Regions from separate parts of the Homo sapiens genome. Here all the other regions are reported to be linked to region 4. The links are microRNA targets in miRTarBase. Many come from high-throughput screens and were not tested one by one. Region 4 holds a microRNA gene; each other region holds the end of a gene's coding sequence.
Evidence for each region. The annotated mature microRNA hsa-miR-4728-5p reads UGGGAGGGGAGAGGCAGCAAGCA and lies in region 4 at 2,470-2,492, opposite strand. An mRNA with a match to its seed (bases 2 to 7 or 8) in the 3' UTR can be bound and repressed. Matches are read on the target gene's strand: a 7mer-m8 pairs with bases 2 to 8, a 7mer-A1 pairs with bases 2 to 7 and ends in A, and an 8mer does both.

Region 1 (5,070 bases), not on the chromosome of region 4:
CAAGCAGGACATGGCGCGGCAGCTGCGCAAGTACCAGGAGCTGATGAACGTCAAGCTGGCCCTGGACATCGAGATCGCCACCTACAGGAAGCTGGTGGAGGGCGAGGAGGGCAGGTGAGAGCCAGGGCTGGTGAGGAAGGGCTGCAGGGGAAGGAGGGCTGGAGGCCCAGGCCTACACAAAGTCAGTTCTCCTTTCCAATATGATACAGTGAGCCTACCAGGCCTGGGTTTAAGTCTTGGCTTAGTCACTTACAAACTGGGACCTTGGCCCAGTTCATTTCATCCTGTTTCCCCATCTGGAAAGTGGGCTGATCATAAACATGGTTCACCTGTGGCAGGGATGATTCATGTGATTATGCCTGCAAATGCCTGTCAAAACTCAGTGCTCAATGCTATTAGCCATTTATGCCATGGAGATGGGACAGAGGCCCAGGAAGGACAAGCTGGCTAGCCAGGGCCACACAACAGGGCAACCCCAGGGCTGGGAGTGACCACCAAGAACTACCCTCCACTTGCCAGCCCCCAGGGGAGTTTAAGCCACAGGCTCTCTTCGCATCCCATCATATCCCTCTCCCACCCCCCCGTCCCCCACCCCCAGGATGGACTCGCCCTCAGCCACTGTGGTCAGCGCTGTGCAGTCCAGGTGCAAAACCGGTGAGTCCTCTTGCCCCGAGAACCCATGGTGGGGTGAGGGTGAGGGTGTAGGGGATCATGATCCTAAAGGCATCATTTTAAGTGGCTCCCAAACCTCCAGCCCCTTCCCTCCCCTACCCCTTATGTTCCCTGTAGCTGCCTCCAGATCAGGCCTCTCCAAGGCCCCCTCCCGAAAGAAGAAGGGCAGCAAAGGCCCCGTGATCAAAATCACCGAAATGTCAGAGAAGTACTTCTCGCAGGAGTCGGAGGTCTCAGAGTAAGGCGGCTGGACCCCAGGAACCCCAGGGCACTCCACTGCAGCAGGAGGGACTTAAGCTAGACTCAAGAAAGCAGCTTGGAGCCTCTAGGTTGAGAAGAGAGGCAAAACCTGATATTGAACTGAGAGAGGGGTTCAAAACTGACTGTGTTTTGTGGGCTGCCAGGGTGGGAGAGGAGCATCACCAGCTCCTCAGAGCCACTCCGCTCCATATCAGTATCTCACAGTCCCATCCTTCCAACCTTCTGGCCAGAGGTTTTCCTGATGGGTGAGTCGGAATTAGGGGTCAGTTTTGTCTCCACCTCCTCGCTCCTCTGAGGCTCCTCCTCCAGCATCAGGCTCTGCCAAGGCCCCTCTGACTCTTGCCCAATCCTTGACCTTGACTCCTATCTCAAGCCTTGCCTTGTCTCTGCCTCGGAACTGGGACTGGGACTGGCTCATCCACCTATGTGCGGGAGCCGAGGAGGACGGCGTGGGCCCTGTCCTGTATCTGGAATTCCTGGGAAGGCTGGCTGCTGAAGACCCTCTTGGCTTTCCCGTGCTCTTTGGGCTCCCCAGAGACCTGACAGTATTAGGGAGTGAAGGGAGGAGGGGCCCTGGCTATTTGGGACCTAAGCCTAGGCCCCAGAGATCAGCCCGAACACCCGCATCCCTTCCTCCTCCCATGGGTCCCTCCCAGTAGGCAGTAGTCAGAACTGGATGGGCTGCCCCCAGCCAGCTCCCAGCAGCTTCTCCGGAAGCTGCTCTTGCCATAATCAACTCCCTGGGAGTGGAAGCCAGATGGCAGCTTGAGATTGGGCAGGAGCATTCGATCTTCCTTTCACCTCCCTGCCATGCTGGGGTCCTACCCAGCCTGGATCTGAGCTCTGTGCCCCCAGCCGGGTTGTTCCCAGCCTGAGCACCGGGCTTTGGTGCACCAGGCCTTGGAGACCCCTGGTCCCACCCCTGCCGTGAAGCCCCAGGCCCACTTCCCAAGAATCTCACTTCTCAGGGCCTCTGTTCTCCTCTCCACTGGGCCAAATAGCCTGGCCCTCCCCTCCTTGGCATTCATGGGGGAGCCCAGGAACCCCCCACACCTATGGGGTTAGAGCTCCTCCTTTCTTCTCACTCCTTCCCCTTCCTCCCTCCATGCCCACTCCCCCTGCCTCCAGCAGGCCAGGAAGAAGGCACAGTCCAGGCAAGTCTGGGAGCTTCCAAGCCCTTGAGGTCCAGCTGTGGGGCCCAAATGACAGCCTTACAAGGGTTCTACCAGAGAGGAAAATTCCACATCCCACCAGAAGACAGGGGTGTTGGCAGGCATACTCCTATCTCCTCCTCTTGGCTCTCAATGCTGAGGCTTGCAGAGGCATCCCAGCGGCACCAGCCTCCCACTGCACAGCTTCCTTCCCTCCTTCACTCTCCTCTCCCCTCCCTGCCCCTTGCCTCACCTCCTCTTCTAGACTGCATTAGATTCATTCATCTCATTTGCCAGGACATGTTGGCCAGAGGTCTGGGCCCATCCCAGGCCTCAAGGCCCTCCAGGCCTGTGGGGAGCACTGGAGGGTTACTGACTCTCTGGCCATGGGAACTCAGAGATTCTCATCCCCAAAGTCCCAAAAGAGGGTGCTGATTGGTGCTTTTCCTCAGGCTCTTCATTGGTTTCCAAGGGAGCAAATCCTCAGTGGGGATACAAGACATATAAAGTATATATTATTTTTTCATAACTTATGTGGCTTTTAACTTATTGCTTCCCTTCCTGTTTCTGCATGATCAGTCTGTATGTACTATCTGGAAAGATAACACATACTCCAGCCACCTCACCTGATTGGCTATCTTGGGGCCATGTCCCCTTCTTGCTGCCACAGGATGAATAAAGTGTTGAGATTTGTCTATGGAGAAAGCTGTGTGTCTGTTTTTATCTCCCCTCTCAGGACCAGTCAGCCACTGGTCAATCAGGCTGATCATGGAACATTAGGAATTCTCCAATTAAGGGAGAAAAAGTCCAGGGACTTAGTTATATCTTCAGACCAGTGCAGCTGGTACACACAAAGTTCTCCTGTCTCACCATCTGATATGGTTTGGATGCTCGTCCCCTCCAAATCTCATGTTGAAATGTAATTCCCAGTGTTGGAAGTGGAGCCTGGTGGGAAGTATTTGGATCATGAGAGAGGATCCTTCATGAATGGCTCAGCACCATCTCCTTGGTGATGAGTGAGTTCTCACTCAATTCACATAGATATGGTTGTTTAAAAGAGTCTGAGACCTCTCCCCTCTTTCTCGCCATGTGATATGCCTGCTCCCCCTTCACCTTCCGCCTTTACTGTAAGCTTCCTGAGGCCCTCACCAGAAGCTGAGCAAATGTTGGTGCCATGCCAGTACAGCCTGCAGAATTGTGAGCCAAAATAAATGTCTTTTCTTTATAAATTACCAAGTCTCAGGGATTTCTTTCTTTTGTGTATGTGTGTGTCTGTGTGTGTGTGTCTGTGTGTGTATGTGTGAGACAGAATCCTGCTCTGTCATCCAGGCTGGAGTGCAGTGGCTGGATCTCGGCTCACTGCAACCTCTGCCTCCCGGGTTCAGGCAATTTTCCTGCCTCAGCCTCCCGAGTAGCTGGGATTACAGGCACCCACCACCATCCCCGGCTAATCTTTTGTATTTTTAGTAGAGATGGGGTTTCACCATGTTGGTCAGGCTGGTCTCAAACTCCTGACCTCAAGTAATCTGCCCGCCTCGGCCTCCCAAAGTACTGGGATTACAGGTGTGAGCCACAGCGCCCAGCCAGGGGATTTCTTTATAGTGTGTTTAAGAACACACTATAAGCACAGCCAGGCCCCTGGGCTGACTAATACACTGTGCTGCACTGAGACTGCACCAACGTTGACCTATGTTCCCAGCGCCTCCTGACATATCCAGGCACCACACAGGCTGCTTTAGCCAGCACACATGCTGGGGATTCCCCAGTGGTGGCAGGGTTTCTTCTTAAGCACTTCTGCCCTACTGGGAATTGACACAGCCCAGAATGTATTCTGATGCGTACGGGCCCAATCCTGCCAAATCAAATCCCAAGTCAATGCATAAGGATTGAGGACCTTCTCCAAGCCCAGCCTTGTGCTAAGACTCCTCCAAGACAGGGGTCCACCCCTCAATCGCAAGTAGTTCACAGTCAGGCTGAGAGATGAGATATCCACCCAAGGTAGCCACCCTGGACTTCGTCACCACGTGCAGAAGTGGGTGCTATAAAGGTCAGGGAAGAGAAGGGCTTGTGGAGGGAATCAGAACAGGCTGCTTAGAAGAAGGGGGACTTTAAGTGAACACAAAGGATCTCAGTTAGGAGACAGACCAAAGCAGGAACAGGTGTCTGTCTCAAAGGAAAGGAATAGCGGGAAGGGACGTGGCAGCATTTGTGTCCTGGCCCACCCACTCACCAGCAAGGAGACTTTAGGCAAATAGAGCATCACTTTCCTCATCTGTAAAATGGGGCACACCTCTTCCCTACTTAACTCACGGGGTGCTTGGGCATTTGATGAGGTGGCTATGTTTATTCATTTCAGGAAAGCCACATCTCTTGCTTCTGTCACTCTGAACTATAATAGCTCAACAATTGTAAAGGATTATTAGTGATGGTGTGATTATTACAGCAGACATTAAGGATTAAAGGTGACCAACTAATCAGGAGACTCAAATGCAAGCAAATAGACCTCGTGCTGGCTAAGAGCACAGCACAGCCAGGCCCCTGGGCTAAAGTTCAGAGGCTTGAGTTTATCCATTCTCCTGAAGACCCTGAAGGGCAGGCTCCACTCTCAAAACTCTGAAGAGACTGATAAGCCACATACCCGTCCAAGAGAGGCCTAGAGCTGAGACCAGCTCTCTCATTTTATCTCTGTTTTCTGTTTTATTAATTTCTGAGTCAGAGTTTGAATTTCTGAATATGAATATGAATTTCATAGTCAAGAATTTCATGAGGCCAGGTGATGGCTATACCTGAAATCCCAGCACTTTGGGAGGCCGAGGTAGAAAGATTGCTTAAGCCCAGGAGTTCGAGACCACCTAGTCAACATAACAAGACCCTGTCTCTATGAAAAAAAAAAAAATTAGCCAGGTATGGTGGCAAGCACCTGTAGTCCTAGCTACCTGGGAGGCTGAGGCAAAGGATCGCTTGAGCCCAGGGGTTGGAGGCTGCA
Region 2 (5,070 bases), not on the chromosome of region 4:
GCTGGTGGGGGAGGGGTCATGTGGCCCCAGGTCCCACCTGCTGGGCCCTGGGGGTGGGGCGGGGCTGTTACACCCCCCTTCCTTTCACATCCACAGGAATCCCCTCCATAACCCAGGCCTGGGGACTGTGGGTCCTCTTAGGGGCTGTGACGCTGCTATTTCTCATCTCGCTGGCTGCACACTTGTCCCAGTGGACCAGGGGCCGGAGCAGGAGCCATCCGGGGCAGGGACGGTGGGTGAAGGACAACAGGGATGGGTTGACTGAGAGTTCTCTCTTACCGAGAAGTCCCCACTCATCCCCTAAACTCTGCGTTGCAGCTCTGGAGAGTCTGTGGAAGAGGTCCCGCTGTATGGGAACCTGCATTATCTACAGACAGGTAGGGAGCTGGCAGAGAGGAGGGGCACAGAGGCCAGGTCCTGGGTGGCTGGGATGGGGGCGTGCAGGAGGAAGGACAAGTTGCTGACCAGATTCCTGTTCCCCGTCCCAGGACGGCTGTCTCAAGACCCAGAGCCAGACCAGCAGGATCCAACTCTTGGAGGCCCTGCCAGGGTGAGTCAACTGTGGCTGGAGAAAAGGGGGAGGGAAGGAAGTGGGGGGCTTTTCGGGCTTTTCCGAGGGTCCAGTGAACTTCTAACAGCCTTGCATCTCCAGGCTGCAGAGGAGGTGATGTGCTATACCAGCCTGCAGCTGCGGCCTCCTCAGGGTCGGATCCCCGGTCCTGGAACCCCCGTCAAGTACTCGGAGGTGGTGCTGGACTCTGAGCCAAAGTCCCAGGCCTCGGGCCCCGAGCCGGAGCTCTATGCCTCAGTATGTGCCCAGACCCGCAGGGCCCGGGCCTCCTTCCCGGATCAGGCCTATGCCAACAGCCAGCCTGCAGCCAGCTGAGATGGAGGGCCTGGCACAGCGGGGCGTGCACTGCCCCAGCCCCCCGTAGCAGGGGCATGACTGTTTCCCAACCAGCACCCAAAGACGGGCGCCATTGCCAAGTCACAGGATGTGATCTACCCCGGACTTCCTATCTGAGCTTCAAGGGAGACATCTCAGGGCAAAGCTTTCGTGATGGAGGAGGCAAAGACAGTAGCCCCCTCCTTATTTCTTTTTTCTATCTGTTCCTCTTAGCCCCCAAACTCCCAGGTTCTCACTTCCTTCTTCTGGAGTTTAACCAGATCCTCCCCACCCCCGCTCCCTCATAGTCTACCCCCACGCCTCAGTGTCTCCTCAGGCACAGGAAGTGGGCGGTGGGGGAGGGGTAAGGGCCTGACAGTGGGTGGGTGGGTATATTCCTCAGGAGTCCACAGACTGGAGTGGACCTGGAACTTAGAGACGGGAGGGACCCGAGCCTGGCTTTTGACCTAAGAACCCTAGCAGGAGAATACAGTCTCCATCCTGCTGTCTCTGTCCTGTCCCCAAGTTTTCAAATAAAACTTTCCAAAAAGTGTTTAGATTTTTACCTAGAAGGCTGAAGACTTGCAAAGGGCCCTGCAGATGGGGGTGTGAGCTTTGCTGTCTGCACGGAGCTCTTTCTGGGGGTGCCTAGCTGGGGATGAGGGGCCAAGAGGGGCTGCGGCATCAACAGTGCAGAGGTGGGCACCGGGGTGGAGGGCCAGAGCCCAGCTCCTCAGCTGCTGTTGCTGCTGCTAGAACACCCCTGGGATCTGCACTCAGAGCCACTGCATTCCCCCTGGGGCTGCAAGCTCACAGTCCTGAGCTACTCTCCCCTTGACCTCTATAACTGCCATCACCTCCACAACCTGCCAGCCTGGTTCCTTCATCAAGTCCTCCAATCTGACCTCCGTCTGTCCGCTATGAGTCCCACCTATACCCCTGTTTTGACATCAGTAGCCTTATCTGCACTTAGTCATCGTATACCCCTAGAGGCCTTCTCCTTACCCCATCACTATGGCAGCGGTCCATCTCCACTCACTCTCTCCCACTCTGGCCTCCCAAAGTGCTGGGATTACAGGCATGAGCCACCGTGCCTGGCCTTCACTCTCTCAGTTGTCACCTGCAGTCTTGGCAACAGTTTTGCTTGTCACCACTTTCATTTTAATCCCCATCTAATTTGTCCTGCCTGTCCACCCATCACCTGCTGATTCTTAACCCCAGCCTCCTACCCCATATAGCATGCTACATCAGCCAGTTGGCACAGAGATTAGGACTCTGGGCTCAGGAGCCGGACTGCCTGCATTCAAATTCCATGTCTACCACTTACCAGCTGTGTGTTCTTGGGCAACTGTGCCTCGGTTTCTGAATCTGTAAGATTGAGAGGATATTAACGGTGTTTACTTCAAAAAAAGGTGGTTGTGAGGCTGAATGAGTTACCATTTGTAAAGCACTTAGACAATAAATGCTCAATAATGCTAGGCATTATTAAAATAAGAGAAATACAGGATCCTCTATGGGAGCTCATAGGTGAAGTGACTTCTAGGTAGAGACATGACACATAGTAGGAATCTGCCAGGAGAAGCGAAGGACAGAAAATGCTCCAAGGCAAAGGGAACCACAGGCAAAGGAGAGGCTTATTCAGAGGACCTGGCAGAAGTGCATTAGGCACAGCGGAGGGTAGAGTGAGATGGGGGCAATGGTAAGATGAGGCTGGAGGGGCAGACAGAGCCAGATCACACTGCGCCCATAAGTCATGCCAAGGAGCTTGGGCTTTATCCTGCAGGGGAGGTGAAAGGGAGTCACTGAAAGTTTTAAGCGAGGGATGAACACAGTGAGTTAAAGGCTCTAACTCCACTGGCTGCTGTGCTGATCTAGTGGTCAGCAGTCTGGAGTCAGGCGGCGCCTTTCAAAGGCTATTGCAAGATTTGAGTGAGAGGGGATGGCGGCAGTAGCGGTAGGGATGCAGAGGAGGGATGGATTACAAAGAGATGTTTAGGGTTTTTTTTTTTTTTAAAGGCCCCACCTATCACATCTTCCAGATTTCTGGTTAGAGCCTGTAACACCCCCCAACCCAAATCCTCATCATCATAATACAGCATAGCTCCAAGTTGGTTTCAGCTCATCACCTTCCTCACCTGGCAATCTCTCTCTCTCTCTCTCTCTCTCTCTCTCTCTCTCTCACAAACACACACACACCCTCCACCCCTTAAGCCCATCTGTGATCCATCTGTCTAGCAAAAGCTCCAACCTGTCAAACCTCTTCTAGGATATTTCAAGGTCTAGACCATCTCCCCAGGGCCTCTGTAGAGGCGGGCCGCGCTTGACAGATCTTTCTGAGGCTTGAGGGGCTGAAGAAAGGAGAAGCTGAGGCTTTCACTTCCAAGCTTCTCTTCTTCCCACTTGGAGTGCCACAGGAAGCCACAGAGGAGGAACCCGTGCGCCTGATTCCTGCCTGGTGGTCCCAATTTGAAAGGGACCACCCTTCCCTTAAGCCCACCCCCCTACAGACCCCACAAATGCCCCTGGGTCCCTGGACCTCTGAGGACCCCACCCTGGGCCTCCCCAGGAGAGGCCCAGGTCGCGGTTAAGGGCAGGTAGCTGGGGATGCGGAGGAGGGAGGGAGGGAGGCTTCGGGGGCGGACACCGGATGCGGGGAACCACCGGCAGCGGGATGTGGGGTTCTGAGGGCTGCGGTGCTTCTGAAGATGGCTCAGCGTCGCGCCAGGTGGACGTGAGAGCTTTACCCTGGAGGAGGCGGGGGTTGGAGTCCCGCCTACCCACTGGGACAAGCCAAGGGGTCAAACGCCCCCAACCCAGCCCGCAGATCTCCTCGAAGCACCCGGTTCTCCTGGCCCGCCCAGACCCACGGCGCTCGCCGCCTTCGCCCGCTTAGGACTGAGTCCGCAGCGCCGCCGCCTGGCGAGGGGCGGAGTTGCCACCACTTCTGCGCAGGCGGGATGCAGCCTGGCCCGCGGCATCCCGGGAGTTGTAGTCTCGACGCTTCGGGGCCACCCCAGGGTCTGGTCCCTGACGACGCGCAGTGAGGGCCCCGCCGCTACCCCAGCAGTCGCCTCCCAAGTTCGCGGAACGCAGCTGACCGGCTCCCTCTGGACTGGGTGACATGACTGCTCCCAAGCAGTCGTTTGTAAACTGAGTTTCTGTAAAACAATTTTATTTTTCATATGTGACTGTAGCGGGGTATGATTTGAACTTTGTTTTCCGTCCCCCAGCCCGGATTCTCTGTCTTCTCCTGTACAGCCGTTCCGTTTTCTTACCTCGTCTCCGTCACCGAGGCCCTCAGCCCTGAACACAAGGACTGGGCAGTTTCCCTATTGATTCCTGAACCTGGAACTTAAGACATCTTCCGAGGGGCCCCCCCTTGCCACACCCTCTAGCTGATCGACTCACAAATACCTGTGATTTCTCTCCCCGTCTCCACCTCCAGGTACTTCCCTAGTGGACTCCTTTCCCTCACCGGCGTAGCATTCCAGCCAGAAGGAGTGCCCGTCCTAGCGCCCCGTTCCCAGGGACAGACCCTCAGGGGGAGCTCCTAGGGCCCCAGCTGTCCCTCCTCTTTCTTAAAGCCTAGCTAGGAGGATAGGGACACATTGAAAACGGAAGAGGGAGGGTCTCCGGGACAGTCAAAGGTTCAACAGCAGGAAGTTCTTTTTTTTTTTCTTTTTTTTTGAGGCGAAGTCTTGCTCCTGTCGCCCAGGCTGGAGTGCAATGGCACGATCTCGGCTCACTGCAACCTCCGCCTCCCAGGTTCAAGAGATTCTCCTGCCTCAGCCTCCTGAGTAGCTGGGAATACAGACGCCCGCCAACACTCCCGGCTAATTATTTTTGTATTTTTAGTAGAGAGAGGGTTTCGCCATGTTGGGCAGGCTGGTGAACTCCTGACTTCAGGTGATCCGCCCACCTAGACCTCCCAAAGTGCTGGGATTACAGGCTTGAGCCACCGAGCCTGGCCAGGTTCTTAAGAAATTACTTATAGGTGGGGAGGGTCTTTGGAAGCCATCCGGCCAGGGCACCTCCATCTTTGGCCCTGCTCTGTAGTCTCTCAAAGATGGGTTTAAACTTCCAGCTTGGTTTTCTTACAAGGAGGGAAACAGAGCTGGGTTGTGGAGAGAAACCAAGTGTTTTTTAATTCTTAATTTTTATGGGTACATAGTAGGTGTATGTAT
Region 3 (5,057 bases), not on the chromosome of region 4:
CGGGCTTACAGCGGACCCCCGGGGTTCTTTCAGGAGCTGGCTCCCCAGGATGGCAGTGGCTACATGGATGTGGGTAAGGTGGCCTTTTCCATTTCTCCCTCCCGGTTGGAGCTTTCCTTCTGTCCTTCTTCCTGTCACTTGTGAGAGTGGAAGTAGGGAGGGGGAAGCAGGAGAATGAGACTCCAGCACAGTCATTCCTCCACTTGCCTTGTCTCAGGTGTATCCCAGAAGGCCCGAGGTGAAGGTGTCCCGGACCCCCAGGGAGGGGGTCAGCTCAGGTAAAGAAGCTGGGAGTTCCAGACTTCACCAGGCTGGTGATCTCTGCACACAGCTGGGGTTGGGGGGCACGGTACGCTGAGCCTGAGACGGGAGGCAGGAAAGGGGCTAGAGGGGGAGAAGGGAAGGCCTGGTCGAGGGCCCTGGAAGGGTGAGTGTAGGGCCCGAGGTCCAAGCCTCCGCTAAGCTGCTTCCCACCCCAGCTGGGACCGGCCGCCGGCGCCTCGGCCTCCAGCGTATAACCGGGCGTTGCAGGGCGACCCCAGCTTCGTCCTCCAGATCGCTGAAAAGGAGCAGGAGCTGTTGGCCTCTCAAGAGACCGTGCAGGTGAGGGGTCTAGGAAGGCTGCGGGTGGGGGCTCGCGGCCAGCAGAGGCCGGGCAGGAGGGAGCAGACCGCCAGGCTTGACGCCTGCGCGGTGCGGCTTAGGTCCTGCAGATGAAGGTAAGGCGCCTGGAGCACCTGCTCCAGCTCAAGAATGTGCGGATCGAAGACCTCTCCCGGCGGCTCCAGCAGGCGGAGCGTAAGCAGCGGTGAGCGGCGGCCCGGGCCGCGCGGGGACGCCCGGGTACCCGCCAGAGCCCCGACGCCGCGCCGGACCCACCCACCGATGGATAGACCATTGGGAGGGCGGAGCCCGCTGCTCTCACGAGCCTGCTGGGGCCCGAGTGCCCTCCTTCCTTGGGATGGGTGAGCGTGGGAGGAGATGGGACAGGAACTCTAGGAGCGCAGGCCCGGGACTGAGCCGCCTCCTACCACTCCGGAGATCCGGGTCAGGAGAATGGACCGCTTTCCAGAGCCCAGAAGCCACGTGCAGAGACCTAGCCTGTCCCCCAAAGCAGTGTCCAACACCTTGGGCCCGGCCTTGCATCTCCCGGCGCTGGGCCTTGGGGGGCGGTCCCTTGGCTCTGTCCACACCCCCAGAATCAGGTCCCCGCCCAGCTCCGAGGACGGCGGCGTCTCCATCCAGGCTAGTTCCCCATGCCCTCAGCCATGGGGGAATCTGTCCCGGGCCGCTGAGGGGCTCCCCTGCCCCTCCTGGGAGCTTACCTGGGACCCACCTCGGCGACGGAGACCGCAGCAGCTGGAGAGGAAGGGGTGAGGCGTGGGATCGCCAGGAGTAGGGAGGACATCGACGATGTGCCCGTAGCAGTCGCCCCTCCCTCCTCGCGCACGGGGTACTGAGGCGGAAGGTTTGAAGGTTACGGCTCAGGGCTGCCCCATTAAAGTCAGTGTTGTGTTCTATTTCCTGTGCCTGCCTTCTCTTTTTGCATCTGAGGGGAGCCAGTTTCTTCTTCACTTGTCCTCCATCTCCCCACCCCCGCCTTGAGTGAAAGAGCTTTCTGGACCCAGAGTGGATCTCATCTTGTGGGTGGCTGGGTCCTGTGCGGCCACAGCTTGGTAGGTTGATGATATCACCAGGGGTCAGGTTTTGCACAGGATGACAGCCTAACTTCTAACCCTGGCCTTAGATTGACCCCCAAACCCACCCTCACAGTGTTCTCCAACCTTGTCCAAACCCAACCCCAAACCAGACTTCAAATTGTTCCCAAATGTGGCCACACACTCACCCTCAACCCTACGTAAGGACTGACCCCTAACTCGGCCCTCTGTACGACTCCAACCCTGCCCACAGACAATCCCAACTTCCATGGATTGAGGCCAGGCTTTACTCCCAACCCTGGCCAACACACTACAGCCATGGCATGACCCTAACTTTAATGGTTTTCTGACTACCAGTAATGTGGAACATTTGTAAATCCTGAGATCCAGCTGGGCATGGTGGCTCAGGCCTGTAATCCCACCACTTTGGGAGGCCAAGGCAGGTGGGTCACTTGAGGCCAGGAGTTCAAGACCAGCCTGGCCAATGGTGAAAACCCATCTCTATTAAAAATACGAACAATTAGCCAGGCGTGGTGGCGGGCACCTGTAGTCCCAGCTACTTGGGAAGCTGAGGCAGGAGAATTGCTTGAAGCTGGGGGGCAGAGGTTGCAGTGAGCCAAGATCGCACCACTGCACTCCAGCCTAGGCAACAGAAGGACACTCTGTCTCAAAACAAAACAAACATCCTGAGATCTAACAATTCCATTCCTAGGCATATACCCAGCACATACCCAAGGGAAACCTAGGCTCTTGTGTTCTGTGTTCTGGGAGACATGTTACAACAACGTTCATAGCAACACTCTTTTTGTTTGGTTTTGTTTTTTTTAAAATGGAGTCTTGCTCTGTCGTCCAGGCTGGAGTGCAATTGCACGATCTCGGCTCACTGCAACCTCCACCTCCTGAGTTCAAGCGATTCTCCTGCCTGAGCCTCTCAAGTATGTGAGATTACAGGTGCATGCCACCACATCTGGCTAATTTTTTATATTTTTGGTAGAGACAGGTTTCACCATGTTGGCTAGGCTGGCCTCGAACTCCTGACCTCAAGTGATCCACCTGCCTTGGCCTCCAAAAGTGCTGGGATTACAGGCGTGAGCCACCATGCCTGGCCCACAGAAACACTCTTTGTAATAGCAAAAGAAATGAAAAGAACCTGTATACATTATCTCTTACTGTGTAGCAAATTATCACCAATGTAGCAGCTTAGAACAACAAATACTTATTATTATATCTCACATTTTCTGTGGGTCAAGAGTCCAGGCCAGGCTTGGCTGGGTCCTCCACTTCAATGTTTCCTACAAGGCTGCAAGCAAAGGGCCAATAGAACTGCAGTCTCATCTGAAGGCACAACTGAGGAAGGATCCAGGCTTCCAGGCTTACTTGGTTGCTGACTGAATTTACTTCCTAGTGGGCTGTCAAACTGAAAGCTTCAGTGTTTTACTCATTGTTGGCCAATAGCCACTCTCATTTCCTTGACACATAGCCATCTCCAGTATGGTAGCTTACTTCATCAAAGACAGGAAAGGAGAGAGTTGATAGAGTCTATTACCAACAAGGGAGTTACAGGCCTGGTGCTGTGGCAGAGGTGCACTTCTCAGAGACAGACTTAGCTATATCTGGATACCAGGAGCAGAAGCCTCAAAGAGGAAGAACCATCAGGACCTGGCCCAGCCTTTGCCATGTAGGAGGCCAATAGGTGAGGTCGTGATACCAGCCATCAAACCTGTCTTCTGGGCCCACAGTGCTACTGCTAAGGCAGAACTGTTAGCCTGCCCTGTCTCCTGGTCCTCGGGCCACTCCATCAGCCATTCCTACTATCTTTACATATAGCAGCCTACAGGTGAGGTTACATGGATAAAAGTTTCAGGGAATAGAACTCCGGGGGCCTATTGCAGACTATGGAGAGATCGTGGTGCTATAGCAAGGGTCAGTGTGTGTGAAGGGCTAACGGTTAGTTTGGGGCAAGTGGAGGGTCAGGTGGAGCCAGTGTTAAACTAAGACCAGGTGGAGTGCATGGATGGGGCTCAGAACAAGGTCAGGAGTAGTTGGCAATTTTTATTTCATTTATTATTGAATATTTTAAATATTACTGAATTGGACTAAATATAATCCTTGGTTCATGACACTCTCTCCCCATTTGTCCATAATCAACTCACTTATGAACACCTATAAATCCACCACCTGCCCCAAGAATGGAATTATTACAAATAACTTTCACCGGCCATGTGCTTCTTGCATCTCTCCCCCTTGCTTCCACTCAGAGATAACCACCATCCTAGATTTCATCCTTTCATTGCTTTTTCCTCCTTGTAGTAGACAGCTCCTAACGTGGCTCCCAGTAATCCCTGCCTCCTGGACGTCACCCCCATGTGTACCCTTTCCTTGAATGTAGGCTGGACTTAGTGACTTGCTTCTGATAAGTAGAATACAGCAAATGTGATAGGATGTCAACTTTTGTGATTACATTAGATAAGATTATAACTCCCTTATTTTTAATTTAATTTTTAAAAAATTTTTCTTTCTTTCTTTTTTTTTGTTTTGAGACAGAGTATTGCTCTGTCACCCAGGCTGGAGTGCAGTGGTATGATCTCGGCTCACTGCACTCTCCACTTCCCTGGTTCAAGTGATTCCTCTGTCTCAGCCTCCCAAGTAGCTGGGATTACAGGCACACGCCACCACACCCGGCTACTTTTTGTATTTTTAGTAGAGACGGGGTTCCACCATATTGGTCAGGCTGGTCTCAAACTCCTGACCTCAGGTGATCCACCAGCCTCGGCCTCCTAAAGTGCTGGGATTACAGCCGTGAGCCACCGCACCCAGCCCTAACTCCCTTCTTTTTTAGAGACAGGGTTTTACTCTGTCGCCCAGGCTGGAGTGCAGTGGCACAATCTTGGCTCACTGCAACCCCAGCCTCCCAAGTTCAAGCAATCTTTACACCTCAGCCTCTAGAATAGGTGGGAGGACAGGTGCATACCACCATATCCAGCTAATTTTTTTTTTTTATGAGATGTCTCACTCTGTCATCCAGGCTGGAGTGCAGCGGCATGATCTCGGCTCACTGCAACCTCTGCCTCCCAGGTTCAAGCTATTCTCCTGCCTCAGCCTCCTGAGTTGCTGGAATTACAGGCACCTGCCACTACGCCCAACTAATTTTTGTATCTTCAGTAGAGATGGTGTTTCACCATGTTGGCCTAGTTGGTCTCGAACTGCTAACCTCAGGTGATCCACCCACCTCGGCCTCCCAAAGTGCTGGGATTACAGGTGTGAGCCACTGCTCCTGGGCTTTTTTTTTTTTTTTTTTTTTTTTTTTTTTTGTAGAGACAGGATTTCGCTTTGTTACCCAGGCTGGTCTCCAACTCCTAGGTTCAAGTGAGCCTCTTGCCTCAGCCTCCCAAAATGCTG
Region 4 (5,070 bases):
ATGAGTCCCACAGTAGACCCTGCCTCGTCTTTCCCCCACCCTACCCACCACTCTCCTCACTCACAAGGAGGAAATAACCCCATTCTGGTGAGTGGCCTTAGGAATTAGTTCGTTCTAAATAAGAATGATCTGGTCGTCAAAGGGCTCTCAGATCTGAATCCAGCTTCCCGATCTCCCCCAACCCTGAAGCTGGAGAACTGGATGTCTGGCTCCTCATCCAAGCTTTCTGAAGATTCCCAGCCACTCCCTCCAGGAAAAGAGGAATTGAGTGTAAGGTGAGCAGGAAGGGATGGCACAGAGCCACCCCCAGACATAGGCCGGTGCCTAGCTGTTTTCCAAAATATATTTGCAAATGGACAAAGTGGGTGTGGAGAAGGACCCCCCACACTTGCCTCCCCATACAACACCCATTCTCCCCCTGGGTCTTTATTTCATCTTTAAAAAAACAAAACAAAAAAAGTAAAAACTAAACAGAAAAGCACTCTGTACAAAGCCTGGATACTGACACCATTGCTGTTCCTTCCTCATGGGGGGCAGTACTAGGTTTCAGGGACAGTCTCTGAATGGGTCGCTTTTGTTCTTAGACACTCCCTTAGGGCCGCTTCCCCTCTCAGGCCAGCTTCCCTAAGGCTTTCAGTACCCAGGATCTGGAAGGAAAGGGCCAAGCTGGGCTGTGGCATCCACTGGACCCTAGAGTCTCATTGGGCAGGGCCTCAGAATCCACAAAGACTCCCCAGTGCTGTTCCTCTTCCAACGAGGCTGGACCCCTTCCAGCCATCTGGGAACTCAAGCAGGAAGGAAGGTTCCTTAGGACAGGTTCCTGGCATGGCAGGTTCCCCTGGAAGTGGTCGGAGGGCCCTCCCACCTCTTGATGCCAGCAGAAGTCAGGCCTTCCCTGCTCCCTGAGGACACATCAGGGCTTCTGCGGACTTGGCCTTCTGGTTCACACTGGCACGTCCAGACCCAGGTACTCTGGGTTCTCTGCCGTAGGTGTCCCTTTGAAGGTGCTGGGTGGAGCCCCCCGCTCTGGTGGGTCCTGGTCCCAGTAATAGAGGTTGTCGAAGGCTGGGCTGAAGGCAGGAGGAGGGTGGGGCTGAGGGGCAGCTCCTCCCTGGGGTGTCAAGTACTCGGGGTTCTCCACGGCACCCCCAAAGGCAAAAACGTCTTTGACGACCCCATTCTTCCCTGGGGAGAGAGTCTTGGGCCTTTCCAGAGTGGCACCAGCAGGTCGGGCAGCAGGCAGAGGGCCCTCTCGGGGCGAAGGGGGCTGGGGCCGAACATCTGGCTGGTTCACATATTCTGAAAGGTCAAGAGAAGGTGACCCATTAGGGGAAGGAACCCCGGTGTCTCTGCCACTCCCTCTGCCCCCACAGTGGACCCTGGGCTGAAGGTCCCACCTCCCCTGCCCATCAGTCTCTCTGCTTAGACTGGACTCCATACCAGGCTGGGGGCTGCAGGTCAGGGGGGCAACGTAGCCATCAGTCTCAGAGGGCAGGGGTACTGTGGGGTCCTCACTGTACCGCTGTAGAGGGCTGGGGTCATGTGTGGGGAGGCTTTGCAGCCCCTTGGCTGCCCCCATTCCCAGGTCACCATCAAATACATCGGAGCCAGCCCCTTCGGAGGGTGCCAGTGGAGACCTGGGGGCCTCCTCTTCAGAGGGCTCCAGCCCTAGTGTCAGGTCCCCACCGCCACTCTGGGGACAAGAAAGAAAGTCATGATGGGGGTCACTCACGGATCTGGGATGGGGACTCCATGGAAGGTGACAGGGTCACAGGAGAAAAACAGAGGTCACCTTTGGGGTATGACACAGTCACCGTGGAGAGAATGGGGTCACAGGGGTTGGAAGGCAGTAAGAATTTTTTGTAGGGATAATGGGGTTTCCTTGAGAGGTGACAGTTGAGGGAACATCAGAGAAAGGGACCCTAGTCCACCGGGGTTGGGGGAGGTAAGCAGACAGCCACACAGTGTGACCGAGGGCACTGACCCTGGTAGATGAGCTGCGGTGCCTGTGGTGGACCATGCCCCCAGCGCCCGGGGCAGGGTCTGGACAGAAGAAGCCCTGCTGGGGTACCAGATACTCCTCAGCATCCACCAGGTCCCCCATGTCATCGTCCTCCAGCAGTGAGCGGTAGAAGGTGCTGTCCAAGGGACTGGCTGGGCCCAAGTCCTCATTCTGTGGAGGAAGGAGAGGCAGGATGGTGGCCCCTCCCCAGCCCAGCATGCAGCCTTCCGTGAGGGGCCTGGCATACTGGACTCATCTCTCCTTCCCACCCTCTGCAGGAGGGTGCTCTTAGCCACAGGCAGGGATGGGGCACAGAGGCCCAGTACCTGGATGACCACAAAGCGCTGGGGGTCCCTGGCCATGCGGGAGAATTCAGACACCAACTCCCGGAATCTTGGCCGACATTCAGAGTCAATCATCCAACCTGGGGCAGGAGGGAGGTCAGCATGCTAGTCCCAGGCCCTGTGTGCTTGCTGCCTCTCCCCTCCCACTCCCCCTCCAGTCTGGTCTAGACAGTCCCAAGGGACAGCCCAAAGCCCTCAGGTGGTAGAGAAGTAGCACCAGACTCTGGGGTCTTCAGCCAGAACCTTTGGCATCTCTTCTAGTTTCCCTTTTAATTTTTTTTTTCTTTTTGTTTGCTTTTTTATTTTTTTGAGATGAGGTTTCGCTCTGTCACCCAGGCTGGATTTCAGTGGTGCAATCATAGCTTACTGCAACCTTAAACTAGGCTCAAGTGATCTTCCTGCCTCAGCCTCTCCTGAGTAGCTGGGACTACTGGCACACACCACCACACCCAGATAATTTTTTTATTTTTTGTAGAGATAGGATCTCACTATGTTGCCCAGGCTGGTCTTGAACTCCTGGCTTCAAGGGATCCTCCCACCTCAGCCTCCAAAAGTACTGGGATTACAGGCATGAGCCACTGTGCCCAGCTTAATTTTGTACAAGAGTGTTCCTCAAGAGTGGCTTTGGACTTTGACTGTAAAAGGGATACAAGAAGGTTTTGAGGCTCCTAACATACTAGGGCTCCTGGGTCTACATACATCCTGGTCCCCTTTCATGCCCCTTGTGGGCTCCTCCACCCAGGACCTCCCACCCTCCTCCAGGCAGCCAGCACAGCTCAGCCACGCACATTTGACCATGATCATGTAGACATCAATGGTGCAGATGGGGGGCTGGGGCAGCCGCTCCCCCTTTTCCAGCAGGTCAGGGATCTCCCGGGCTGGGATCCCATCGTAAGGTTTGGCCCCAAAAGTCATCAGCTCCCACACAGTCACACCTAAGGCAGAGACAGGGTCAGGAGTGGGAGGGCCAGAGGGAGCTTTAGTGTACTGAGCCAGAGGTTCTGCTCAGGAGTCTAGCATCATGGCAGGTAGCAGGGGGAGATGTGATGCCAGGAGACAGACCCTACCCGGTCTTTCCCTAATCCTGGGAAGTGCACAGACCCTGCAAGGTGGGGCACAGGCAGCCCCTTCCCTCCCTTCACATGCTGAGGTGGCCCCGTAATTCTCCCCATCCCAGCTCTCATCCTCCCTCCAGCCATGGCTCCTCACCCACCCCTCCCAACACCCCCCATCACACACCATAACTCCACACATCACTCTGGTGGGTGAACCGCCGGCGGAGAATGGACTCCAGCGCCATCCACTTGATGGGCACCTGGGAGGGCAGAAGAGGAAGTCCTCCAACTGTGTGTTGTGGGGAGGTGGCCACTCAGAGTTCTCCCATGGGCTAGACACCACTCCACCCAGCCTCCTCTGCTCCTTGGTCCTTCACCTAACCTTGCCCCCATCTGCATGGTACTCTGTCTCGTCAATGTCCAGCAGCCGAGCCAGCCCGAAGTCTGTAATTTTGACATGGTTGGGACTCTTGACCAGCACGTTCCGAGCGGCCAAGTCCCTGTGTACGAGCCGCACATCCTCCAGGTAGCTCATCCCCTGGAATGGGAAGCACCCATGTAGACCTTCTGGGAGGGCCTGGGCCTGGCCACATGCCCAGCAAGAGTCCCCATCCTAGCCCCTTGTGGACATAGGGGTTTGCTCCGGAGAGACCTGCAAAGAGCCCAGGTGCATACCTTGGCAATCTGCATACACCAGTTCAGCAGGTCCTGGGAGCCCAGGCGTCCGCGGTTTTCCCGGACATGGTCTAAGAGGCAGCCATAGGGCATAAGCTGTGTCACCAGCTGCACCGTGGATGTCAGGCAGATGCCCAGAAGGCGGGAGACATATGGGGAGCCCACACCAGCCATCACGTATGCTTCCTGGGGACAAGGGTACGCTGAGAGGGTATGGGAGACCACACACCCCCAAACACCACACAGCCTCCCAACCATCACAAACCACAGCCATGGCCCACAGCCTGTGAAGGCTCAAAGTACCAGCCTGGACAACATGGTGAAACCCTGTCTCTACTAAAAATACAAAGATTAGGCCGGGCACGGTGGCTCACACCTGTAATCCCAGCACTTTGGGAGGCCGAGGCGGGCGGATCATGAGGTCAGGAGTTTGACACCAACCTGGCCAACATGGTGAAATCCCATCTCTACTAAAAATACAAAAATTAGCCGGGCGTGGTGGCTCGCGCCTGTAATCCCAGCTACTCAGGAGACTGAGGGAGAAGAATCGCTTTAACCTGGGAGGCTGAGCTGAGACCGCACCATTTCACTCTAGCCTGGGTGACAGAGCGAGACTCTGTCTCAAAAAAAAAAAAAAAATTAGCGGGCGCTTGTAATCCCAGCTACTCAGGAGCCTGAGGCATGAAAATCGCTTGAGTCCAGGAGGTGGAGGTTGCAGTGAGCCGAGATAACGCCACTGCACTCCAGCCTGGGTGACAGAGCAAGACTCCGTCTCCAAAAAAATAGTCTAGGTTTGCGGGAGTCATATCTCCCCAAACCCCAATGAAGAGAGACCAGAGCCCAGACCTGCAGCCATGGGGTCCTTCCTGTCCTCCTAGCAGGAGAGGGTGGAGGGGCTTACGTCTAAGATTTCTTTGTTGGCTTTGGGGGATGTGTTTTCCCTCAACACTTTGATGGCCACTGGAATTTTCACATTCTCCCCATCAGGGATCCA
Region 5 (5,064 bases), not on the chromosome of region 4:
GCACATTAGTGACTGAGGGGTTCCCTCTTGAACCCAGAAGTTTATTAGCATTCAGCAAAGAAGTATATGTTGTTACAAACAGGCAGTGCATCAAGATATCCAGATGTCAGTGAGAGCTAGAAGTGGAGAGGTCAGAACCCGGGTGATTCTGTGATGTCTCAGGGATGGAGAAGAGGAAGCTCAGGTACAGCCAGGGGCCACACTCCCCTTTCTGCACTGGGAGAGAAATAACTCTTACACCTGGGGTGATGATGTACTGCAGTTCCTAATTTCTTCCCTCCTTCCTCCAGCCATTTTATTTAACATGACCTAAATATACATTCCTGTTTTATTCCCCCCCACCCCCACCCCCATATACAGCAGGAAAAATAAGCACCAATAATAATAACAATAATTAAAGTCCCACCTCTCAATAGACCCAACCCTCACACATATACATACCATGTGGATTTTCTTCTTTGGAGTGACTATAGGATTGGAAAGTCAGGGATCAGGCCAGCAAGCCATCACCCTGAAAGTCACTGTTCCCCAAAGTACCATCCACGTGTGAGCTGGAGCAGGGCAGGGGAGGGGGAATGGTGGTAGGGGAGGAGATTCCCCCAAAGCAGCAAGAGGGGTGAAGGAGTTCCCCAAAGCCTCTCTTCTGGGAAAATGTCACAATCAACTGAGCTCCTAGGAAGTCCTATGCAAGGGTTTCCTCAACGAGATGGTAAATTCCTGATAGTGCAAGCATCATTGTCATCTGTCTCCCACAGCTTCTTGGGGAAAGGGGACATGGTTGAAACCCCCTTCCTTCCCCATTGGGTGGAGAATGTTCCCAAAATGCTCCTTTGGAGAAACTCAACAAGACAAATAGCACAACATGGGCACTCTGATTTCAAAACTAAAGCACAAAACATAACGAGGAAAAAAAATAAGACACATGAGTACTCTCAGAGGGTCTAGACATGGGGAAGAAGGGTTCAAAAGAAAGAAAAACATAAAATAAAGCCAGAAAATGACAAGCTGTCTACCAGGTCCCACACGCCTGAGTCACTTGGCGTTTGTCTTCAGTACCTGGGCATCTTCTGCTGTCCCTATCATGGGGGGAGGGAACGGACAGTGTGGTACAGCTAAGGTAGGGAGAGGGGAAAGAGGGAGGGCCCTAGGCAGTTGAGATGCCAGCCCTCTGCACAAGCAGCAGCAATTTTTGTGTCATCTTTGTTTTGTTTAAAACTGTAAACAGCACCGCTTAAAAATAAATCAGAAAAGAACAATTGATAAACATTGTTTTCCATGAATATAAAATGCAAACAATATAAAAATAGATAATTGACTTTTGATATATATATATATATATATTAAAAACAACTTGAATGCAACATACACATGGGTAAACTTGAAGTCTCCCTGCTAAACCCCATGCCTCCCTCTAGCAACTGGGCCTGGGGGCTGAGGGCAGGTGGGGTGGTGGCACTGGCACAGGTAAGGAAAGCTGCTGGCAGCAGGATGAAGGGTACACACCCAGCCTCCTGAGTGTGTGAAGCTACTTCCCTTCTTGGCATAGGACTAAGGAGGGAGAGAGACTGGTGTTTACTGAACCCATTATCCGGGCAGTCTTGTGGCCTGGTACCCAAGCTGAGGCCAGATAGGTAGGGCTGGCTTGAACTGGGCCCCAAGGCAGTGCTTCCTTGGAGACTCTAAAGCACCAAGAAACTGGCATCCTGGCCCTGGGAGAGGCCTACTAGGTGGCCTTCTCTATCCACATTCACTGGTCCTCCAAGGACCAGTCTCATCTGGGAATTCTCAGGATCACAGCTGTCTGGCACTAGGCCTATTGGGTAATAAGATGAAGGCAGCTACTTCCACTAAGTCCCATTTTCCCTTAAAATCACATCCAAAAGCATTATTCCAGGACCTTGCAATGGAGACATGTTGTTCATCTAGTAGTACTCTTGGAGGTGTGGACATGATATCAACAGTTTTAGTGGTCTGGGGTGTATTTGCTGCCACCCAAGCCAGCACTAGTCTGTGTTTGGAAACAGGCCTGAAGCTTGGCTGGCTCTCCCAATGTCACCCTGTGCTGTCAACACCATGGGTCCCCAGACAGGTCTTCCTTCCTCCCCTAGGCTGCCATTGGGTTTCAGCCACAAACTGCTTAGCTCTAGAAATTCAAAGGAACCTGCTTCTGCAGCCACATATCCTGGCTGCCCCACTTCAGGTGGTAAGGATCCTATTCCTGGGCTGGCTAGGGCAGTGAAGGGACTTGCAGGCAGCAAGGCTGTCCAAACCATGAACTCTCACTCAGCCCCAGGCCCTACTCTGTGGTGTGTGACCTTCCAAAGCCCAACAAAGTGTGTCAGGGCTATGCCAGTGCCCCTCAGAGACAATGCCTCATGCTGCCTTCCTGATCCTGAGGGCAGCTCTCAGCCCTTAGCCAAAGGTTGGCCACCTCCTTTTTCTCTTCCCAGATAGGCTGGTGGCCCTTCTCCAGCAGGGTCTGGAGGCTGGTGATGGCTCTACCGCCTGCTGTGGCTGGCACAGTCCACATGTAGACAGGAGCTCAAGCTGCCCTGAAAGAAGAGGCAAGAGGTGGGTTCTTCCCTGTTGTAAAGGCATTTGGTGAGTGTTTACTTCCTGCCAAATAGCCAGGCCAATTTCAGCCCCACCATCCCAGAGCAGCTTTGGTAAGAGGCCAGAAAGTTGGAATTTGGGCACTTCTCTCTTGGAATGCTGTGCTTGGGGTAAGGAGGGCCTTCCTCACCCTCTTTCATTCTCCAGCTCCACAACAGATACATTTCTTCACAATGTATCTGTAGCCAAAGTCAGCCTGAAGAGCTGGTCTGGGTCCCTTGAGTGGTGGTGTTAGTGCCATGCAAATTCATGTGGTGCTTCCAGGGGTGCAGCTTCTACCAGCCAGGTCTGCTATTTGTGAGTAAGGGCACTGGGCCAACCCCAATCTGAGAAATGGTGACAAAGACCAGCATGGACACATCCCCTGGCCAAGAAACAGTTTGCCCACAAAGTCACCTTGACTTAGGGGGCAAACAGCATCTGTTCCCAAGCTAAATTGCCATATCTCAGGAATGGCAAGAACCCTGTTGACTTCTTCTCTCAACAGGCATGGAGATGGTGGGATGTGAGGGCGAGGGTGCAATAATCATAATTTGAGTGAACACAGCCAAGCAAAAAATGTTCCATATGCCATTTCCAATAAAGACATGTAAAAGGAACCCTCTCCTACAGGTGATTAATGAGAGGTTGAGCTTGGCAAGATTAGCCTGTTCCAATGTCTTCCTGACAGCAAGCTCTTCCCCACCAGTATTTCCAACCTAGTTTAACATGAAAACTGCATGGATGCAGGAGAAGGGAGGGTGCCATTCATTCCATAAAGGGCTGCAACTGCCAAGAAGCCCTGTCATTTGATGATGCTAAGGACTCGGCTAATTGGAAGATAAAAGCTCTTTAAAGGGCCCAGAACAGCAGCTGAGATGCCTTTGGTATCCTGTCTTGGGAGTGCAAACCTGGGGCCTTATTACAGAGTCCAAATGATGGGATGGGCAAGGCTTAAGGAACATTTTGTGTTGGGAGGCTTGAGAAGGGAGTTTTCCCTTTTAAGAAACTGAGATACCTTAAGCTCTGCATGGTCTGAAATCCCCTTTCTTGCTGGCTGTGATAAATGGACCCTCATTTTCTATCTTTCCCCTACACTCCACAAAAACCCCAGCCCCTATAGTCAAGCCTAATTTAGGTTGCTTCTCTTCCCTTATCTCAATTAAAAGACCGTGTTCCTTGTGATGAGATTATGAAAATTTCCTTTAGAGGAAAAAAGAACAAAAATTCAAAAGCATCTGCAACTCAGGTAGTCACAAGCTTAAAAGAAGGAAAAAAAATCCTATCATTCCGGAGCTCAACACTCTATGGCAGTGTCCACAACAGAACCTTGTTTTGTCTTCTGTTTGCAAATGGATGAATTTTATCACTCCATCAAGGGGATTAGCATTTTTGTCTTTAACCCAAGCTATGGCAGGACAGTTAAAAGGCCCCCATCTGGTCATGATGCCAAAGTCCACAGCGATAGGCTGTGAGACACACGCTACTTGATCCTCTCTAAGGACAGCTAGCTGGGATGAATAGCTTATAGTCATCTGATATAATGATGGCAGCTATGCCAGGCCAAAAGGAATAGGGGTGGGGAGGATCTGTACCATAATTTCACATTGCTAATAGCAAATAAGCCCCACTTCCCCAAGCGGGAGGCAATGCAGACTTGGCTGCTAATCAGTGGTTCATCATTCATTGGGGGAAAGGGGCAGGGGGCACTAAAGGTTTAGCCTGTGTCAAGGATGCATGCTATATATGTGTGTGCATGTGTGTTTGTGTGTGTGTGTGTATGTATGTGTGTGTGTGTGTGTGTGTGTGTGTGTGTATATATATATATATATATATATATATATATATATATATATATAATCACTAACTTGGCAACTGGAATAGGCACAAAATTACAGCATCCCAAACCCAGCGTGGGTCACAAGAAGAAACCTCGAAAGCAAAAACTGGAGTGCAGTAGCAGCAGCAGCCTCCCTGGGCAGATGCACTTGAGTTGAACGTGGCCATAGATGGCAGAAGAGGCAAGTGGGAAAACCAAGGTGAAAACTCACAGGAGTTTTCCTTGGCCCAAAGGGTTTTCAAGTTAAACAACAACCCCCACCCCCCCACCCTTCTGCCCAACCCCTGATCCCCATTCACATGCTCAGGCCCCGTGTCCCTACTCCAGAATTGATAATAACTACTTGGCTAGGTTTCCATTCATGGCAGTGGAGGAGTAGCTGGTGGCAAGAGAGGCACCTTGCTCAGCCCTCTCCTTTGACAGGTCAAGGCTGGAAGGCCCATAGTGAGTGGGCTGAGGCTGGGGGTGCTCAGGCCGGACCCTGGGCAGCTGAGGAATGCCATGGGTGATGCCCACAGGCTTGGCCTGTGGTAGAGGGCTGGGGCTGAAGCCTCCAGAACTGGAAGAGCAACTGGGCTCATCAACAGGCAGCAGCACATCTCGAGGCCTGGCCCTCATGCTCTGGGAGGCCT
Region 6 (5,070 bases), not on the chromosome of region 4:
CTCCCTCAGATCCAATGTGGAAACGCTCCCCACACCACCTGGATTCTGACACCCCACATGTGCTGCCTGGCCCCACCTTACCCCATGGCCTGTAGGCCAAATTGTGAGGGAAGAGAAGAGGAAGAACTCTCACTGTGCTTTTACTCAGCCTTGCTCTGGTGACTGACAAAATTGAGGAACTTGTATTGGCCATTTGCTTATTTGAGTAGCCAGCCTAGCTTTTCTTTTGGTTGTCTGTCTTTTTCTTGCTGAGTTGTAGGAGATTTTTTATGCATTCTAAGCACAGGCCCTTTCTCAGATATGTGTGTATTTCAGATATGTGCAAATATCTTTTCCTCTCTATGGTTTGAATTTTATCTTTCCTAAGGATGTCTTTTGAAGAACAGAAGTTTTTTTTTATTCCAATACAGTTCAATTTATCAATCTTTTTCTCTATAAGTAAGGCTTTTGTTTCCTAAGAAAAGTTTTTCCTATTTCAGTCTTGGGGATACTCTTTTATGTTACCTTTTAGAACTCTATCATTTTATCTTTCACATTTAGATTGACAATCTATCAGGAACTGATTTTTGTGTATCTTGGGGGAGAGGGTCATGATTCATTTCTTTCTGTGTGGATACCCAACTAGGTCAGCATCCTACATTGAAAAACCTCCTTTACCCAATGCTCTGCATGCCTCCTCCATCATAAATCATGTGTCCTTGTGGGTATCATCTGTTTCTGGACTTTCTATTCTTTCCATTTTTCTATTTGTTCTTCCTTGTGCCAAAATCTCACTATCTTTATTTCTATATATTTATATTATCTTGATTTCTAGTAGTGTAAGTTCTCTGACTTTGTTTTTCTTCAAGATTGCTTTCGTGAATTTTCATCTTTTGTGGTTCTATATGAATTTTTGAATCAGCTTATCAGTTTCCACAAAAAATTTTCTGGGGTTATTATTGAAATTACAGTGAAACTAGTAATTAATTTGAAGAGAATTGACATCTCTGTAGTATAGAGCCCTCAATTCATGGTATATTCCTCCATTTCTTTTGACAGTTAATTTCTCTCAATATTATACAAATTAAAATACAAAGTTATTATTTTTCATAGTTTTCTTGACCACCTTTTGTTAGAGTAATTCCAATAGTTTATATATAGATTCTTTTGGATCTTTAAAAAAAATTTTTTTTTGTAGAGGTGGGGTCTTGCTATGTCTTGAACTCCTGGCCTCAAGTGATCCTCCTGCCTTGGCCTCAGAAATTGCTGGGGTTACAGGCATGAGCCACTGCACCCAGACTGAATCTTTTTTATACATATTTATGTTATCTGTGAATGATGTCAATTTTATTTATTTCTAATCCTTATAAACTTAGTTTCTTTTTCTTGCCTTATTACAATGGCTAAGACCTCCAGTGCAATGTTGGGTAAAAGTGGGCAACTTTGTCTCATTCCCAATCTCAGGGGAAAGGGTTTCAATGTTTGACTATTAAGTATAAAATTTGTTCAACCGTATGTTATTTTATATGTGTGTGTGTGTCTGTGTGTGTGTGTGTGTGTGTGTGTGTGTGTGTATAATAACATTATACAGTTGAACAAATACTACAGATAGGACTGGCATGGTGGCTCATACCTGTAATTCCAGGTACTTGGGAGGCTGAGGTAGGAGGATCCCTTGAGGCCAAGTATTCAAGACCAGCCTGGGCAACAAAGTGAGAACCCCATCTCTTAAACAGACAAAAATAAATACTAGAGATAAAAAGGGATATTTTTATAGTCATTTCAAACTATAAAAGTCTCAATTTATCAAGAAGGTTAAAACACCCTAAACTTGTATGCATCATACACACACACAGACACATACACACACACACACGGCTAAGATTTATTTTAGCTAGAATGTCTTGTTTCTAATGGGAAGGTTAGCCACATAACCCAGACCTCCCCCCTGCACTCCTTCCTCTCTTTGTATATTCTTTTTTTTTTTTTTTTTTGTTGAGACAGAAGCTCACTCTTTCACTCAGGCTGGAGTACAGTGGTGCCATCATAGCTCACTGCAGCCTCAAACTCGAGCTGAAACAATCCTCCCACCTCAGCCTTCCAAATAGCTAGCCTGGCTAACTTTTAAACTTTTTGTAGAGACAGTATCTCGCTATGTTGCCTAGGCTGGTCTTGAACTCCTGGCCTCAAGCAATTCTCCTGCCTCAGCCTCCCAAAGTGCTGGGATTACAGGCATGAGCCACCGTACCTGGACTCTCTTTGTATATTCTTTTTTTTTTTAAACATAAACTCAATATTTTATTGTCTTCATAATAAAACAAAAGATGACACTTAGAACTGGATCACTTGGCCCTTGCTCTTCTTACCTCCTCCCAGTTCAAAATGCTTGTATCTCTTAATAGCCAGCATTCTCTTAGATCTGCAGTTGGGCTTCATGCACTCAAAACTTAGCACAATCTTCTTTGTAGTTTTAGCCTTTTTCTGGAAAATTGGCTTAGTCTCCCCACCATAGCCCCTCTGCTTCCTGTCATAACATGGCTTTCCCTAGGCATACAGGGAAATGTGTCCTGTGTCACTCTGTGGGGCTGGTGCTTCCCACACTTCTTACAGAAAGTCCAGTGGGTTTTAGGAGTGTTCACCATGTTTGCAGGAGCACTATTGGCACTCTTTGTGTTTTCTTGATTTTATTTGCTGTTAAATATGTTGCAACTATTTTTCTGAGCTCATATGTGTCTTTCAACTTTCTTTAATTTTTTGTGTGTTTTCAGATGTTTTCCATTATTATATGGTCATACCTTAGTGTTTACCTTTATGGCTTCTGGACTTTGTGCTTAGGAAACTTTTCCCCCTCCAAGATTATAACATACTCTTCTGTGTTTCCTTCCGATAGTTGTATAGTTTCATTTTTGTGTTTAGTGCTTTAATCTGTCTGTACTTTTATTTTGTGTATTGTGTGAAGTATAGATATAACTTTATTTTGATCCAAATAATTTGCTCACTACTCTCACACCGTTTACTGAAGGATCTACCCTTTCCTCTGATTTGAAATGTCTGCTGTCAAAAGCTATTTTGTTCCTCAAATCTATCTGTTTATTCTGCACCTGTGGAGTTTTTAACAGGGTGAATTGTGCGATTTCTCCTCAGCCTCTATTCCCTCGTAGCTGTCCCTTCACCAAACCTCCTGTCCATCATGGTCAGCCAGCAACCCTCCCAAAGGTGGGCTAATGATGCTGGCACATGGGGCTCTTATGAGGACCCAAAAGTAGATAGTAGGCTCCAGAAACGCCAGCTCCTTTCCACCCCTTTTTGCTTGTCTTCCCTTTACATGCTGACAGTCCCTCTGAGCCTCAAAGCAACAGCAGCCCCTCAGCCAAACAAGGGCTGGACCCAGCATGGGGCAGAAAGACTCGAGGGGATCTGGAATGTTCCTTGACATTTCCACCCACTGCCCTGGCCTGGGGCCCTCCTGGGAGCTGGTTGTTTGTACGGTGGGTTCTTCCCTCCTTGAATGCACCGTGGTTCTCCTGTAGCTCCTCCAGGTGTTGCCTACTTCACAGTCTCTTCCAGAAAAGGAGGGGCTGCACATCCTACTCCTGACTGACTCTCAGGCTCTGTGCCCTCCCAGTTTGAAGAGAAATTACTCCCACTCCTCAAAGGCCCTTGTAAGGCATGAGCACACAATGGCCTGGCTACTTTCTTGAAAAGAGGGAGGAGAAATAGAACAAAACACAGACTAGTATCTCCACAAATCACTCTCCCACACATGTATTATTTGTGTCATTCACAAAAATTATCTTAAACCGAGAGGAGGAAGCCAGGGTAGGACATGTGACATAAAACACCATTTCTGCCAACAAATGTTTATTAAACACCTATGTGCACAGCACAGAGCCAGGATCTTCATCTCCACTGCAGTTCATGCTTCTGGAGAGCTGTCCAAAAGCTCGGGTTGGGCTGGTTTGAGGCCTGGGATCCAGGCCCGAGGTGAAGATGGGAGGACCAGCCCAGCCCCAAGAGCTCCCAGCCTTCAGACTCCTGGGTGGCCTTGACTGGCAGCAACAGCCTTAATAAGTATTGGAGCTGGAGACCAAACCCAACACCATTTTCCAGGAGGGGCTAATCCATGACCAAGGTGCTTATGAGAGCATCCTTCCTGGGCCTTATGAGAGCATCCTTCCTGGGCCCTTCTCTTGCCAGAAAAGGCCGTGGATGGCAGACCTGCAGGTGCGCCCTGGAGGGAGTGGCTGCCGACCGGCCTCCCACAGCGTTGGCTCTTGGCCTGAGCCTTTGCCTCTCTCTGGCCTCCTGTGATATCACACCCAGGGTAGTGGTCATTGTCTGTGTTCTCAGGGACACTGCTACGTGTTAAAGACTTACTGACACAGAATTAAGACTTTCGAGAGAGGAACTGAGAAGGGAAAAGTTGGATGAGAAGTGGGCTCCTAGGAAAGTGAGTGAGTGTGGGACAAACATGGAGTGTGTCTGTTCCTGCCAACTTCCAGACCCAGGCCCAGGAGGAGGCACTGCCCAAGGCCTAGGTGACTTGGAAACTGGGGACCCACTATGGGAGCAGAGGAGCCATCAGTGGTGCTGCCTGGATACCTCAAGAGCAGGCCATCCTCCAGTGACAGGCAGTCTCATGGGAATGGCCTCCCCTAGGATTTGAGGAGGGCGTGTGTCAAGGGGCAGTCACAAGGAAGATCCCCATAACCCTTTGGTTCAGGGCCATAGAGCCTAGACAGGGCCTCTGGCTGTATCAGAACTGCCGCCCATTGTTGGGCAAGAAGTTGCTGATGGCACCAGCACCTTTGATAGAACCTTCAAAGCTGTGGTTGACATAGATGTTGTCAGCTGTGGAGACTCGGGAGGGGTGATTTGGGCAAGAGGCCACCATGACTGCTGCCACCGCCTCCTCAGCCCGCTTCTGCTCCAGTGCCAGAGCCGGGTTAACGTCAGGCCCTGCGGAGAGACAGAGAACCACAGTCAGAGAGGTGGGCAGGGGACACAGGTGAGAAGCTATTCCTGGTTCTGTACAACAAACCCAGGGCAGGAAGGGTCCCAGGGGGGATCTGTGCCATGTGCCTTCCAGGG

Region 1: the mRNA of KRT80 is a reported target of hsa-miR-4728-5p. Seed matches in the 3' UTR shown: 7mer-A1 at 1,569-1,575, 8mer at 1,581-1,588, 7mer-m8 at 1,940-1,946, 7mer-A1 at 2,274-2,280 and 7mer-m8 at 2,316-2,322.
Region 2: the mRNA of SIT1 is a reported target of hsa-miR-4728-5p. The part of its 3' UTR that is shown has no 7-base or 8-base seed match.
Region 3: miRTarBase lists SPEF1 as a target of hsa-miR-4728-5p. Seed matches in the 3' UTR shown: 7mer-m8 at 1,433-1,439.
Region 5: miRTarBase lists AMER1 as a target of hsa-miR-4728-5p. Seed matches in the 3' UTR shown: 7mer-A1 at 3,565-3,571, 7mer-m8 at 3,348-3,354, 7mer-m8 at 1,136-1,142, 7mer-m8 at 1,087-1,093 and 7mer-m8 at 566-572.
Region 6: the mRNA of NPC1L1 is a reported target of hsa-miR-4728-5p. Seed matches in the 3' UTR shown: 7mer-A1 at 3,971-3,977.

The regions. Positions count from the first base shown.
Region 1 is chr12:52,167,242-52,172,311 of GRCh38, reverse strand. KRT80 (keratin 80) reads left to right here. Exons shown (of 9, transcript NM_182507.3): 7 at 1-114; 8 at 599-654; 9 at 790-3,316. The coding sequence ends at 914. Among named protein-coding and RNA genes, the nearest start is that of KRT80, 22 kb to the left of the region's middle.
Region 2 is chr9:35,645,664-35,650,733 of GRCh38, reverse strand. It overlaps SIT1 (signaling threshold regulating transmembrane adaptor 1), which reads left to right. Exons shown (of 5, transcript NM_014450.3): 2 at 97-232; 3 at 319-377; 4 at 489-550; 5 at 653-1,439. The coding sequence ends at 886. It overlaps LOC101926948 (a long non-coding RNA gene), which reads right to left and starts at 4,464. Exons shown (of 2, transcript NR_135130.1): 1 at 4,301-4,464; 2 at 3,258-4,044. It also overlaps a transcript of CD72 not described here. RefSeq lists a silencer at 23-92 and enhancers at 1,003-1,052, 3,913-4,292.
Region 3 is chr20:3,773,967-3,779,023 of GRCh38, reverse strand. It overlaps SPEF1 (sperm flagellar 1), which reads left to right. Exons shown (of 7, transcript NM_015417.5): 4 at 34-73; 5 at 218-278; 6 at 480-603; 7 at 705-1,520. The coding sequence ends at 812. Among named protein-coding and RNA genes, the nearest start is that of SPEF1, 5.0 kb to the left of the region's middle. RefSeq lists an enhancer at 1-558 and a silencer at 694-943.
Region 4 is chr17:39,723,918-39,728,987 of GRCh38, reverse strand. MIR4728 (microRNA 4728) reads right to left here and starts at 2,493; the gene lies at 2,427-2,493. ERBB2 (erb-b2 receptor tyrosine kinase 2) reads right to left here. Exons shown (of 27, transcript NM_004448.4): 19 at 4,978-5,070; 20 at 4,077-4,262; 21 at 3,784-3,939; 22 at 3,586-3,661; 23 at 3,135-3,281; 24 at 2,329-2,426; 25 at 1,985-2,173; 26 at 1,441-1,693; 27 at 330-1,299. The coding sequence ends at 944. It overlaps MIEN1 (migration and invasion enhancer 1), which reads left to right. Exons shown (of 4, transcript NM_032339.5): 4 at 1-478. RefSeq lists an enhancer at 1,713-2,685.
Region 5 is chrX:64,185,108-64,190,171 of GRCh38, forward strand. AMER1 (APC membrane recruitment protein 1) reads right to left here. Exons shown (of 2, transcript NM_152424.4): 2 at 10-5,064. The coding sequence ends at 4,772. Among named protein-coding and RNA genes, the nearest start is that of AMER1, 18 kb to the right of the region's middle.
Region 6 is chr7:44,508,712-44,513,781 of GRCh38, forward strand. It overlaps NPC1L1 (NPC1 like intracellular cholesterol transporter 1), which reads right to left. Exons shown (of 19, transcript NM_001101648.2): 19 at 3,824-4,938. The coding sequence ends at 4,736. It also overlaps the pseudogene RPL36AP27. Among named protein-coding and RNA genes, the nearest start is that of NUDCD3, 21 kb to the left of the region's middle.